Linked DNA regions of Homo sapiens. The protein of the gene in region 1 interacts with the protein of each later gene in a pairwise test. Each region holds a gene or a part of one and is shown in the gene's direction. Other genes may lie near its edges. The genes, in order: BRME1, NUP58 and NDUFS1.

Evidence for each region.
Region 2: the proteins of BRME1 (region 1) and NUP58 interact in binary tests that used the Homo sapiens proteins (3 or more experiments, as listed by UniProt).
Region 3: the proteins of BRME1 (region 1) and NDUFS1 interact in binary tests that used the Homo sapiens proteins (3 or more experiments, as listed by UniProt).

Annotation. Positions count from the first base shown.
Region 1 is NC_000019.10:13,904,607-13,908,357, reverse strand, and holds the start of BRME1 (break repair meiotic recombinase recruitment factor 1), read left to right. Parts: upstream 1-2,240; 5' UTR 2,241-2,247; coding exon of another isoform or gene 2,248-2,643; intron 2,644-3,444; coding exon of another isoform or gene 3,445-3,465; coding exon 3,466-3,496; intron 3,497-3,751. Other genes in the region: CC2D1A (coiled-coil and C2 domain-containing protein 1A), read right to left, coding at 1,857-1,916. UniProt on the Homo sapiens protein: Meiotic recombination factor component of recombination bridges involved in meiotic double-strand break repair.
Region 2 is NC_000013.11:25,304,517-25,308,267, forward strand, and holds part of NUP58 (nucleoporin p58/p45), read left to right. Parts: intron 1-3,087; exon of another isoform or gene 3,088-3,124; intron 3,125-3,289; coding exon 3,290-3,432; intron 3,433-3,751. UniProt on the Homo sapiens protein: Component of the nuclear pore complex, a complex required for the trafficking across the nuclear membrane.
Region 3 is NC_000002.12:206,124,705-206,128,455, reverse strand, and holds part of NDUFS1 (NADH-ubiquinone oxidoreductase 75 kDa subunit, mitochondrial isoform 1 precursor), read left to right. Parts: intron 1-483; coding exon 484-659; intron 660-1,611; coding exon 1,612-1,746; intron 1,747-1,844; coding exon 1,845-1,917; intron 1,918-3,751.

The DNA of each region.
Region 1 (3,751 bases):
CCTGGCCAACATGGTGAAATCCCATCACTACTAAAAATACAAAAATTAGGCCGGGCACGGTGGCTCACGCCTGTAACCCCAGCACTTTGGGAGGCCGAGGCAGGCGGGTCACCTGAGATGGGGAGTTCGAGACAGACCAGCCTGACCAACAGGGAGAAACCCCGTCTCTACTAAAAAATACAAAATTAACCAGGCATGGTGGCGCATGCCTGTAATCCCAGCTACTCGGGAGGCTGAGGCAGGAGAATCGCTTGAACCCGGGAAGCGGAGGTTGCAGTGGGCCGAGATTGCGCCACTGCACTCCAGCCTGGGGCGAGAGAGCAAGACTCTGTCTCAAAAACAAACAAACAAAAAAAGAACCCCTAACCACAATGCAGGTTTGCCATGCAGACCCGTCTTCCTATCTTGGCTAATGACCAATCATGATGTGATAACATCGTGTTTAACCATATGAAATTGCCTTTCCTGTAGGTAAAAAATGGCCAAATATTGGCAATTATGTATGGTTCCACCAACTAGTAATAATGATAATAGTAACATTTATTGAGTGCTATGTTCTAGCACTTTCCATAAACTATCTCAATGACTCTCTACAACTGTCCTGTAATGTAGGGTCTCTTGGAGGTCTCCATTTTTAATTTTTTATTTATTTATTTATTTTCAGAAGGAATTTATTTATTTATTTTGAGAAGGAGCCTTGCTCTGTCACCCAGTCTGGAATGCAGTGGCGCGATCTCAGCTCACTGCAACCTCCGCCTCTCGGTTCAAGCGATTCTCCCACCTCAGCCTCCCGAGTAGCTGGGATTACAGGTGCCCGCCACCATGCCCAGCTAATTTTTGTATTTTTAGTAGAGATGGGGTTTCGCCATGGCCTCCCAAAGTGCTGGGATTACAGGTGTGAGACACCACCCCGGACTTCCATTTTTAATTTTTTATCTTTATTTTAGAGAAAGAGTCTTGTTCTGTCACCCAGGCTGGAGCAGAAGTAGCGCAATCATAGCTCACTGCGGTCTTGAACTCCTGGGCTCAAGCAATCCTCCCTTCTTAGCCTCCCAAGTAGTAGTACTACAGGCACATGCCACCATGCCCAGTTAGTCTTTTTTTGTCGAGACGGGGGTCTTGCTTTTGCCCAGGCTGGTCTCAAACTCTGGCCTCAAATGACTCTCCCACCTCTGCCTCCGCCTCCATCTCCTGAAGTGCTGGGATTATAGAGATCTCCATTTTACAGATGAGAAAGCTGAGGCTCAGAGCTGTAAAGTCAAGTGTCCGATGTACAGAGGCCAGGAGGGAACTTCAGGTCAGCCAGACTCTAATATCTGAACACCAAGCTATGTCCTGGGCTCCTTCCATCAAAACTGAGAAAAATCAAACTATCTGGTGCCTGGGGCAAAGAAGTCGGGAGAGTGAGAAGGGGTCCAGCCACAGTGCCATAAGCTTATGGCTGCAGCCCTGGATTTGTGCTTAGCCCTGGCCAAGCTGTTAATCCCTATGACCTTGGGCAGATGTCTTCACGTCTCTGAGTCTCAAAGTCCTCATCTGTACAATGGAATAAAAAGAGTCTGACATGGCCCGACTGATGCAAGGGTTTGATGTGTCAAGTCCGAGGACTGCCCCTCCTCGACTGGAGCAGCTGTGGCAACAGGTGGCCCCGAACCCGGGGCAGGGCCCCAGGAGCTGGGGAGCCAAGGCCAGTAGGCCACACTTGGGTGGTGTTGGAGCCTCACCTGGGGGGAGGCGGGGACCGGGGCTTACCTGTGGGGCGGAGATCGGGCTTCCCTGGGGGGTGGGGCCCTTCCCTGAGCGAGTGACGGGGGTGGGGAGGGATCCCCAGGTCGGGCCGTGGGGCGCAAACTCACCTGGCGGGCGGCCGCGGCGCCTCTGCCCGGGGGTCCCGGGGGTCCTTTCCTCTTGTGCATCTTCAAGGCTGGATGCCCGGACCACCTGCCCCCAAGCCCGGCCTTGCCCTGCCTCCTTCCCCGGGCTCTGTCGCCGCGCACTCGCCCTTCCTGAGTCCTGCACTCCTCGTCGGCGCCCCGCGGCCGTCGATCCCGAGCCCTCGCTTCCCTGCTTGGCCGTCCCACTTCCGCCTCGGGCCTCGGGCGCCGCCGCACCGGAGCGCGGCCACTGGGCTCGCCGGGTCTGCCGAGCCGAAACTACAACTCCCGGCAGGTAGTGCGTGGGCGCGCAGGCGCCTGGCTGGGGCGGTGCTGACTGTCGCGGGCTGCGAGGGCGGTGTTTGCGTCGCTCATGCGCGGGGCGGGACCTCGCGGGGCGCGGGAAAGAGGCAGAGCGCGCGCAGGTGTGAGGGGCGGCGACATCTGTGGGGTTCAGAGCGTCTGTCAGTCACCGACGGGCTCCGGCTTCACGTGGGCTCTCGGCCTGTGGAGTCCTCACTTCTCGGTGGTCGGCGTAGTGTCAGTGTGGGGCTTGTCACCGGGAGCGGGGTCTACAGCGCCCACCCTCAGGCCTTTCCATCTTTCACCTCCGGACTCGAGGCCTCCAGCGTTCTGTGAGGGCCAATTTGGCCATTTATTTTTTCCAAAAAGAGTAACGCGGATAATTCAAGCGACTTATTCCCAACTGATCCAGGCAGAGCTCGTTTCTGATAAGGACAGAGGGTCCTCAACGACTTCTGTGGCCCAGGTCCGTTCTGGTTTGCCTCGCCCCCAAGGCTGGGAGAAACCGGCCTATGGCAGCTCTTTCCCCTCCAAGGACCCAGCTGTCCCCTTTAAAGTGGCACGATCTTGGCTCATTGCAACCTCTGCCTCCTGGCCTTGTACCACAGCCTCCTGAGTAGCTGGGATTACGGGTGTGTGCCACCGCACCTGACTAATTTTTTTTTTTTTTTTTGAGACGGAGTCTCGCTCTGTCGCCCAGGCTGGAGTGCAGTAGAGCGATCTCGGCTCACTGCAACCTCTGCCTCATGGGTTCAAGGAATTCTACTGTCTCAGCCTCCCAAGTAGCTGGGATTACAGGTGTGCGTCACGATGCCCAGGCTAATTTTTGTGTTTTTAATAGAGAGGGGGTTTCACCATATTGGCCAGGCTGGTCTCCAGAGGCCCCTGGAGAGTCCTCAAGTGTCCTTGGAAGGGCCCCCAGATACCCCAGTCTGGAGGGAGGGGCTTCACACAGGCTGTTTCATCCTAGGGACCAGAGTCTGGGTCCCCGGGGCTATCTATAAGGACCCCCCAGGGCCCATTTGTCTTTCAGGTCCTGGGCATAAGATCTTCAGTTTGGAGGAGGTTTGAATTCCTACCTGGCCATGGCCCAAAGTGGCTGTGACTCTGTGTCCCATCCTGTGTCCCAGTGGGAGCCATCTGACCCCTGGGGCAGCCAAATGGGCTGAGGTGGAGGTAGGGGTAACCTCTGCTCTCAGCCAAAGCCACTGGATATAAACAGAGACAGAGACTGCTTATAATGATGAGAGATTTTGCTTGTTTTCAGATTTCTCAAGGGGAAGATAAAATGACTAAGAGGAAGAAGCTGCGGACCTCAGGTACGTTCATTCAAATGGACACTTGTTGATTTCTGCTTCTGCTTGTGGGAAGAATGTGGGCTTGTTTATTGCAGATCTGGCTAACACGACTGCCTTAACCTCCTTAAAAGGAAGCAAGGATTGGCCGGGTGCGGTGGCTCACACCTGTAATCTCAGCACTTTGGGAGGCCGAGGCGGGCAGATCACAAGGTCAGGAGTTCAAGACCAGCCTGACCAACATGGTGAAACCCCGTCTCTACTAAAAATACAAAAATT
Region 2 (3,751 bases), on another chromosome or scaffold:
TGTATTTTTTTTTTTTTTTAAGACAGTCTCACTCTTGTTACCCAGCCTGGAGTGCAATGGCGTGATCTTGGCTCATTGCAACCTCCACCTTACGGGTTCAAGCAATTCTCCTGCCTCAGCCTCCCAAATAGCTGGGATTACAGGCACGCCACCACACCCGGCTAAATTTTTTATTTTTATTTTTGGTATTTTTAGTAGAGATGGGGTTTCACCATGTTGGCCAGGCTGGTCTCAAACTCCTGACTTCAGGTGATCCATCCACCTTGGCATCCCAAGGTGCTGGGATTACAGGCGTGAGCCACCACACCCAGCCGGCAGTAATGTTTTAGTATCCCCCAAATACTCATTTACCCTACTCCACATTATACACACAACAGTGTCAAAATAACAATACGATCAGACTACTACCAGCTAAGCTAAATGTTTTGGCATATATGCCCCTTTTATGGTTGTACTACCTATGTTGTCTGGATATAGCCATTACATACTATATTCTTTTGCTTGTAGCGCTCACTTAGGTTTCTGTGTGTGTGATCTCACTTAGTTTTGATTGTAGCAATATGTTGTTAAAAATACCTTTTAAATTAAGACTAAATGTTTAAAGATCTGTGGGGTTTTTTTTTTTTTTTTTTTTTTTTTTTTTTTGAGACAGGGCCTTGCCCTGTCTCCCAGGCTGGAATGCAGTGGCGCAATCTCAGCCCGCTACAACCTCCACCTCCTGGGCTAAAGTGATCTTTCCACCTCAGCTTCCTGAGTAGCTGGGATTACATTCAGGTGTGCATTGGCACGCCTGGCTAATTTTTGTTTTTTGGAAGTTTTTTGTTGTTGTTTTTTCGGTAGAGAGAGTTTCACCATGTGGCCCAGGCTGGGCTCAAGCTTCTGGGCTCAAGCAGTCTGCCTACCTCAACCTCCCAAAGTGCTGGGATTACAGGTGTGAGCCACCCGGCCTGGTCAAGATCTGTGTTTTAATTGTTAGCGAGAGCTTACCGCCCTGCTTTGTCTCCTGCCTCGCCTTCATATGCCCAAGGTGCACACAAACACATTTTAAAAATCAGTACTTCTCCTTTTACCTACTCAGTATGGATGGCACATCTCAAGTTCTACCCTTAATAAGCTCCTCCACCTCCATTCCCCTCACAGTGATTAGCTCTTTGCCTCAAACTTCTGCAGTATCTCTTTGCCATCGTTTGGTACTTGATTATAATCTTACTTATAGTAATTCTAAACTTACTGAAGGTGTGTACATTTCTACTGCTTGAATTATCTCCTGCTTGAGTATTTCTTTTCCTCCTTGTCTCCCAGTGTTTGCAAAAATTTGAGTGGCTTCTTAAGCTGATTATGAAATTGAAGACACCCGGACCCAAGTAACTTGGAGAACTCTTCTGGCTTGGAGTACAGTTATTTGTGTTGTTTATCCCCCTGGTAAACGGCATGTTCCTTGACTAGGGGACATCTTTCTGCTCCCTTGCTATTCCTGGCATAACGCCTTGTACATAATATGTTTAGTTAAATTTATAAGTATCCCTAATGATAACAGTCATAACAACATTTATTGAAGTTAATTCATCCTGTGCTCTGAACCCTTATATTTAAAAAAAAATTCTGCTGGCCGGGTGCGGTGGCTCACGCCTGTAATCCCAGCACTTTGGGAGGCCGAGGCAGGTGGATCACGAGGTCAGGAGATTGAGACCATCCTGGCTAACATGGTGAAACCCTGTCTCTAGTAAAAATACAAAAAATTAGCTGGGTGTGGTGGCAGGCACCTATAGTCTGAGCTACTCCGGAGGCTGAGGTAGGAGAATGGGGTGAACCCGGGAGCCGGAGCTTGCGGAGTGCCACTGCACTCCAGCCTGGGCAACAGAGTGAGACTCCGTCTCAAAAAAAAAAAAAAAAAAAAAATCTGCTAAGTGGGTACTGTTAATTCCTGTTTTGCAGATGAGGAAATAGAGGCTCAGAAAGGTTAAGTAATGGCACACAAGTACCAGAACATGGGGGGATTGGTACTGGAACCCAGCCACACTACTGCTGCCAGGGCTTTTGAGACTTTAAAAATGACATTGGGTTCTCCCATGGTGATTATTCTTTATGGAAGGGCAGCAAAGGAAATAATAAAGATAAATATGTAGGATAAAGAGAATTTGCCATTATGCTGTATAGTCTCCCTTAAATCTCCTACATAATTTTGGAAGTGTCAACTTGTCAAAATTTGCTTATTTTCACAGTTTGTCTTCCCACCTTTTCATAGCAAATCTGAACCCCTGAGTCTTGATAAGAGTAGTTGAAAAGTTGTGAAGTTTGTTCACTTTCACTTGTTTTTATCAGCTGTTCTTTTTTTAAGCTTTGCACTGTGCTCTGAAGAGTTTCTGTTAATGAATACATGATCCTGAGACAGGGTGATTTTGCTTTGCGTTTAACTTTTGCCAGGAAATGTCCCCACTAGTTTTTCTATGCTTTTTTTGGTGGTAAAATACCTAAGTCTATACTCTCCCCAACACCACATTGCCCCATGAATGTGGTAATGTAGCAATGGAAAGCTAGTGAAGATAATTTAAAATAACTTTTCTATGACCATTTAAAAATATGCTAGGTTTCAAACATTGGTGAAAGCAGAATAATTGTGATCCCTACTTATGATTACCTTGAGATCTGGAATCCTTATTGCTGTAGACTGCTTTTCTTGAAATCTGGTATTGTATTTTTTTTTTTTTTTTTTTTTGAGAGGGAGTCTCGCTCTGTCACTCAAACTGGAGTGCAGTGACACTATCTCAGCTGACTGCGACCTGCCTCCCGGGTTCAAGCAATTCTCCTGCCTCAGCCTCCTGAGTAGCTGGAATTACAGGCGTGTGCCACCACCACACCTGGCTAATTTTTGTATTTTTGGAAGAGACGAGGTTTCACCCTGTTGGTCAGGCTGGTCTCGAACTCCTGACCTTGTGATCCACCTGCCTCGGCCTCCCAAAGTGCTGGAATTACAGGCATGAGCCACCACACCCAGCCTGAAATCTGGTATTGTATTTTTTAAGACTACTTTTACATGTGGATTTATTTTTTTTTAAGACTACTTTTACATGTGGATTTATTTTTAAGGAAGAACAGAAACATATTTGAACTTGATGGGTTAAAGGTAAATTTATTTTTCTTTTTGGGTCCTATGACAATGTATTAGATATGTTATGTGAATGAAATTATCTTGAAGAGTTAATTTTTATTTTTCTTAAGTAAATATTGGCTCTAGTAGACCTCCTTTTGTGCATGTGATTTTTGTTTTGTTTTTGTTTCTTTAAATAAGCAACCCTTCTGTGGGGCTCAATTTTGGAAATCTTGGAAGTACTTCAACTCCAGCAACTACATCTGCTCCTTCAAGTGGTTTTGGAACCGGGCTCTTTGGATCTAAACCTGCCACTGGGTTCACTCTAGGAGGAACAAATACAGGTGAGGAGGATCTGATCACATTGTCAGAGAGTAGGCTTGGGATATTCTTTCCTAAATTGTGTCCTGTATCTCTCTTTACAAGGATCATCACTGGTAGTAGACCTTAAAAAATGGTAAATGCTAAGATGAAAAGAAATGCAAGGAATTGGAATTAAGGGCTAGTGATAGGCCCAATCATTGACTGTCATCTACTCTGATATAACGAAGGAAAACATACAAATATTAATTTAAATTTTTGGATTATATAATGTAGTGTTTTTCCTTAGTGGAGATTGTGGTTTAAGCCAGCTTTATCAATTTGGAACATTAACATACGTGA
Region 3 (3,751 bases), on another chromosome or scaffold:
GGTGGCTCATGCCTGTAATCCCAGCACTTTGGGAGGCTGAGGCGGGTGGATCACAAGGTCAGGAGATCAAGACCATCCTGGCTAAACACGGTGAAACCCTGTCTCTACTAAAAATACAAAAAATTAGCTGAGTGTGGTGGCAGGCACCTGTAGTCCCAGCTACTTGGGAGGCTGAGACAGAAGAATGGCATGAACCCAGGAGGCAGAGCTTGCTGTGAGCCAAGATTGCACCACTGCACTCCAGCCTGGGCGACAGAGCGAGACTCCATCTCAAAAAAATAATAATAATTTTCTTTGGGAAGGGAGTTGAATTAGGGTTGAGGTGGGCTTTAATTTTTATTACTTCACTACTGTTTCATTTTAGTTTTAAAAACTTTTGTGACTTTACAAAATGGGATTTAAAATGATATATACTATCTTCATGTACAGTAGAAAATCAGTTTTTAATAAAATTTTGGTTTACCATTTTCCATCTTTGTGCAGGACATCATGGTGATGTTGGGGCTCCCATAGCTGATGTTATTCTCCCAGGAGCTGCTTACACAGAGAAGTCTGCTACATATGTCAACACTGAGGGTAGAGCTCAGCAGACTAAGGTAGCAGTGACACCTCCTGGCTTGGCAAGAGAAGACTGGAAAATTATAAGAGCACTCTCTGAGGTATAATTTCTGAGTCATTTCTTAGTGATGCTACTAAAGGCATATTTGATATTTTAGCCTGTTAGAATGATTTTCAAAGTCAAGGAAGATGCCAGTCTGAAATGCAGAGATGATTTGAATAATTTCTATAGAAAACATGTATTCAGAAACAGGAATTCAAGGTTACAGTGAGCTCTCATTGCACCGCTGCACTCCAGCCTGAGGGACAGAGCAAGACCCTGTCTCTTAAAAAATAAAGGAACTTGAAATTGGTGCTTTTATTTTATTTTATTTATTTTTGAGACAGAGTTTTTCTCTGTTGCCCAGGCTGGAGTGCAGTGGCGTGATCTCAGCTTACTGCAACCTCCACCTCCCGGGCGCAAGCTTCCTGAGTAACTGGGATTACACGCATGTACCACCAAGCCTGGCTAATTTTTATATTTTTAGTAGAGATGGGGTTTCGCCATGTTGGCCAGGCTGGTCTTGAACTCCTGGGCCTCAAGCAGTCCTCCCACCTCGGTCTCCCGAAGTGCTGGGATTACAGGTGTGAGCCACTGCACCTGGCCTGAAATTGGTGCTTTTATTGTTGAAAATTGTTGACTTGTCTTTTGCCTGAAAATACATCTGTTAGCTCTTTATTGATGTAAAAGTAAGCATCCTGACTTTTAAAATAATAACACATTGTAAACTTTATGTATTTTAATAACAGGTTAGCAAAAACATTTGGATTTAGCATAGTATTGTCTCTTCATTTCATAGAGTCACTAATGTACTGACAGCTGTGAATGAATTAGAATTTTTGATATTTGTGTTCCCTGCTTAACTGCTTCCTTCATAAATGTATGTCTACTAATGGACACCAATAGGTTTTTCAGTAGTGCTGCATTATTTCACCATAGTTACAATTATCTATTATTTGATATTTTTAAGTATTAAAGCTTTTTGTTGTTTTTGGGGACCTGACATGTTGTAGATTGCTGGAATGACTCTTCCATATGATACTCTGGATCAAGTAAGGAACAGATTGGAAGAAGTCTCTCCTAATCTTGTTCGATATGATGATATTGAAGGGGCTAATTACTTCCAGCAAGCAAATGAGCTCTCAAAGGTAACAGCTCGCCTATGAGCAGTTTTCATAATGTTGTATCTACTGGTGTAACAGTACTAGTTTTCCATATTATTGTTGATCTCTTCTTTTTTGTGCAGCTAGTGAACCAGCAGCTTCTTGCTGACCCACTTGTTCCACCTCAGCTAACTATAAAAGACTTCTACATGACAGGTATGTAATTGTCAACATGACTCTGCCAAATACGAAAGGTAAGAAGTAATCAGATCACCTCATTTGGTGTTATAATTCCAATTTGTGATTGATAGTGTTTGCAATTCTTAATCTTTGAAGGTTTTCAAACATTGGAACTAACGTAAGCATATTTTCTGATTCTACTCTAGTTTTTTTGTTTCTGAAATGTAAGCAAAGTTTGAAAATCCAAGCAATTAATAGATTTTAAATATAAAATTTTGCTGTTGTAAGGAAAGTCACTGTGTAGCAATTTATGGTGAATTTTCCAAAGTGGCAAATAACTGCAGGTTTTTCTGAGAATTATAGGTGGAAGAATCAAAACATTTAAATGTGAAACATGTTAAACAGTGCTTCTGATGTAAATTGTTAGGAATGTTTTTAAGGAATGCAGACAAACTGAAACTTGTTTATTGCAGATTCTTAGAACAGTTGATACAACATCTAGGTTATGAGGTAGTTAATAGTTGATAGATTATTTTGACTAATTTTCTATCTAAAAGCACATAGAACTCTTAATTTTTTTATATAGTTTGTATCTAAGATTTTTTAAATAAGTATTTTAGTTAGATAATAAAGATTACCTTCATTGTAAAATAATACCTATGCTCAAAAGCACAACAAAAAATCACTTCTATGGTATTTATCTGCGAACTTATGAACACAAAGAAGGAAACAACAGACACTGTAGTCTACTTGAGAGTGGAGAGTGGGAGGAGGGAGAGGTGCAGAAAAGATAAGTCTTGGGTACTGGGCTTAATTCCTCGGTGATGAAGTATTCTGTACAACAAATCCCTGTGACATGAGTTTACTGGTGTAAAAAGCCTTCACATGTACCCCTGAACCTAAAAGTTTTTTTTTTTTTAAAAAAAGAAAAATCACTACCCTCCCACTATCAAGAAATAACTATAATTATTTTTAACATTTTAGTCACTCTTCCTCCAGGGACATACATATGCATTATACACATATATATTATATTAATTAACTATTGTTATTTATATGTAATTATTACTGTTTACATGTACGTGTGTGTGTGTGTGTGTGTGTATAATTTTTGAGATGAGATTTTACTCTGTCACCCAGGCTGAAGTGCAGTGGCACAATCTTGGCTTGCTGCAACCTCTGCCTCCTGAGCTGAAGTGATCCTCCCACCTCAGCCTCCTCGGTAGCTAGGACTATAGGCGCATACCACCACATCCAGCTAATTTTTGTATTTTTTGTAGAGATGGGGTTTCGCCATGTTACCCAGGCAGATCTCAAACTCCTGGACTCAAGCAGTCCACCCACCTCAGCCTCCCAAAGTGCTGGGACTACAGATGTGAGCCACCACCCCTGGCCTATATATTTTTTAGTGAAACAGAAGGTGAGATTAGGCCTGGTGCAGTGGCTCATGCCTGTAATTCCAGCATTTTGGGAGGCTGAGGGGGGCAGATGGCTTGAATCCAGGAGTTTCAGACCAGCCTGGGCAACATAGTCAGATCTGGTCTCTTTAAAAAAAAAAAAGTGAGATTATTCACTTGGGGGTTGATAGCTTTATTGAAATATAATTCATGTACCCTAAAATTTACTCATGAAGTGGACAATTCAATGTATTTTAGTACATATGCTGTTTTGTAACCTTTTTCAATAATAGTATTGTACACATTTTTCCTATATTTATTTATTTATTTATTTTTTTGAGACAAGAGTCTTGCTCTGTCGCCCAGGCTAGATTGCAGTGGTGTGATCTCGGCTCACTGCAAGCTCCGCCTCCTAGGTTCACACGATTCTCCTGCCTCAGACTCCCGAGTAGCTGGGACTACAGGCATATGCC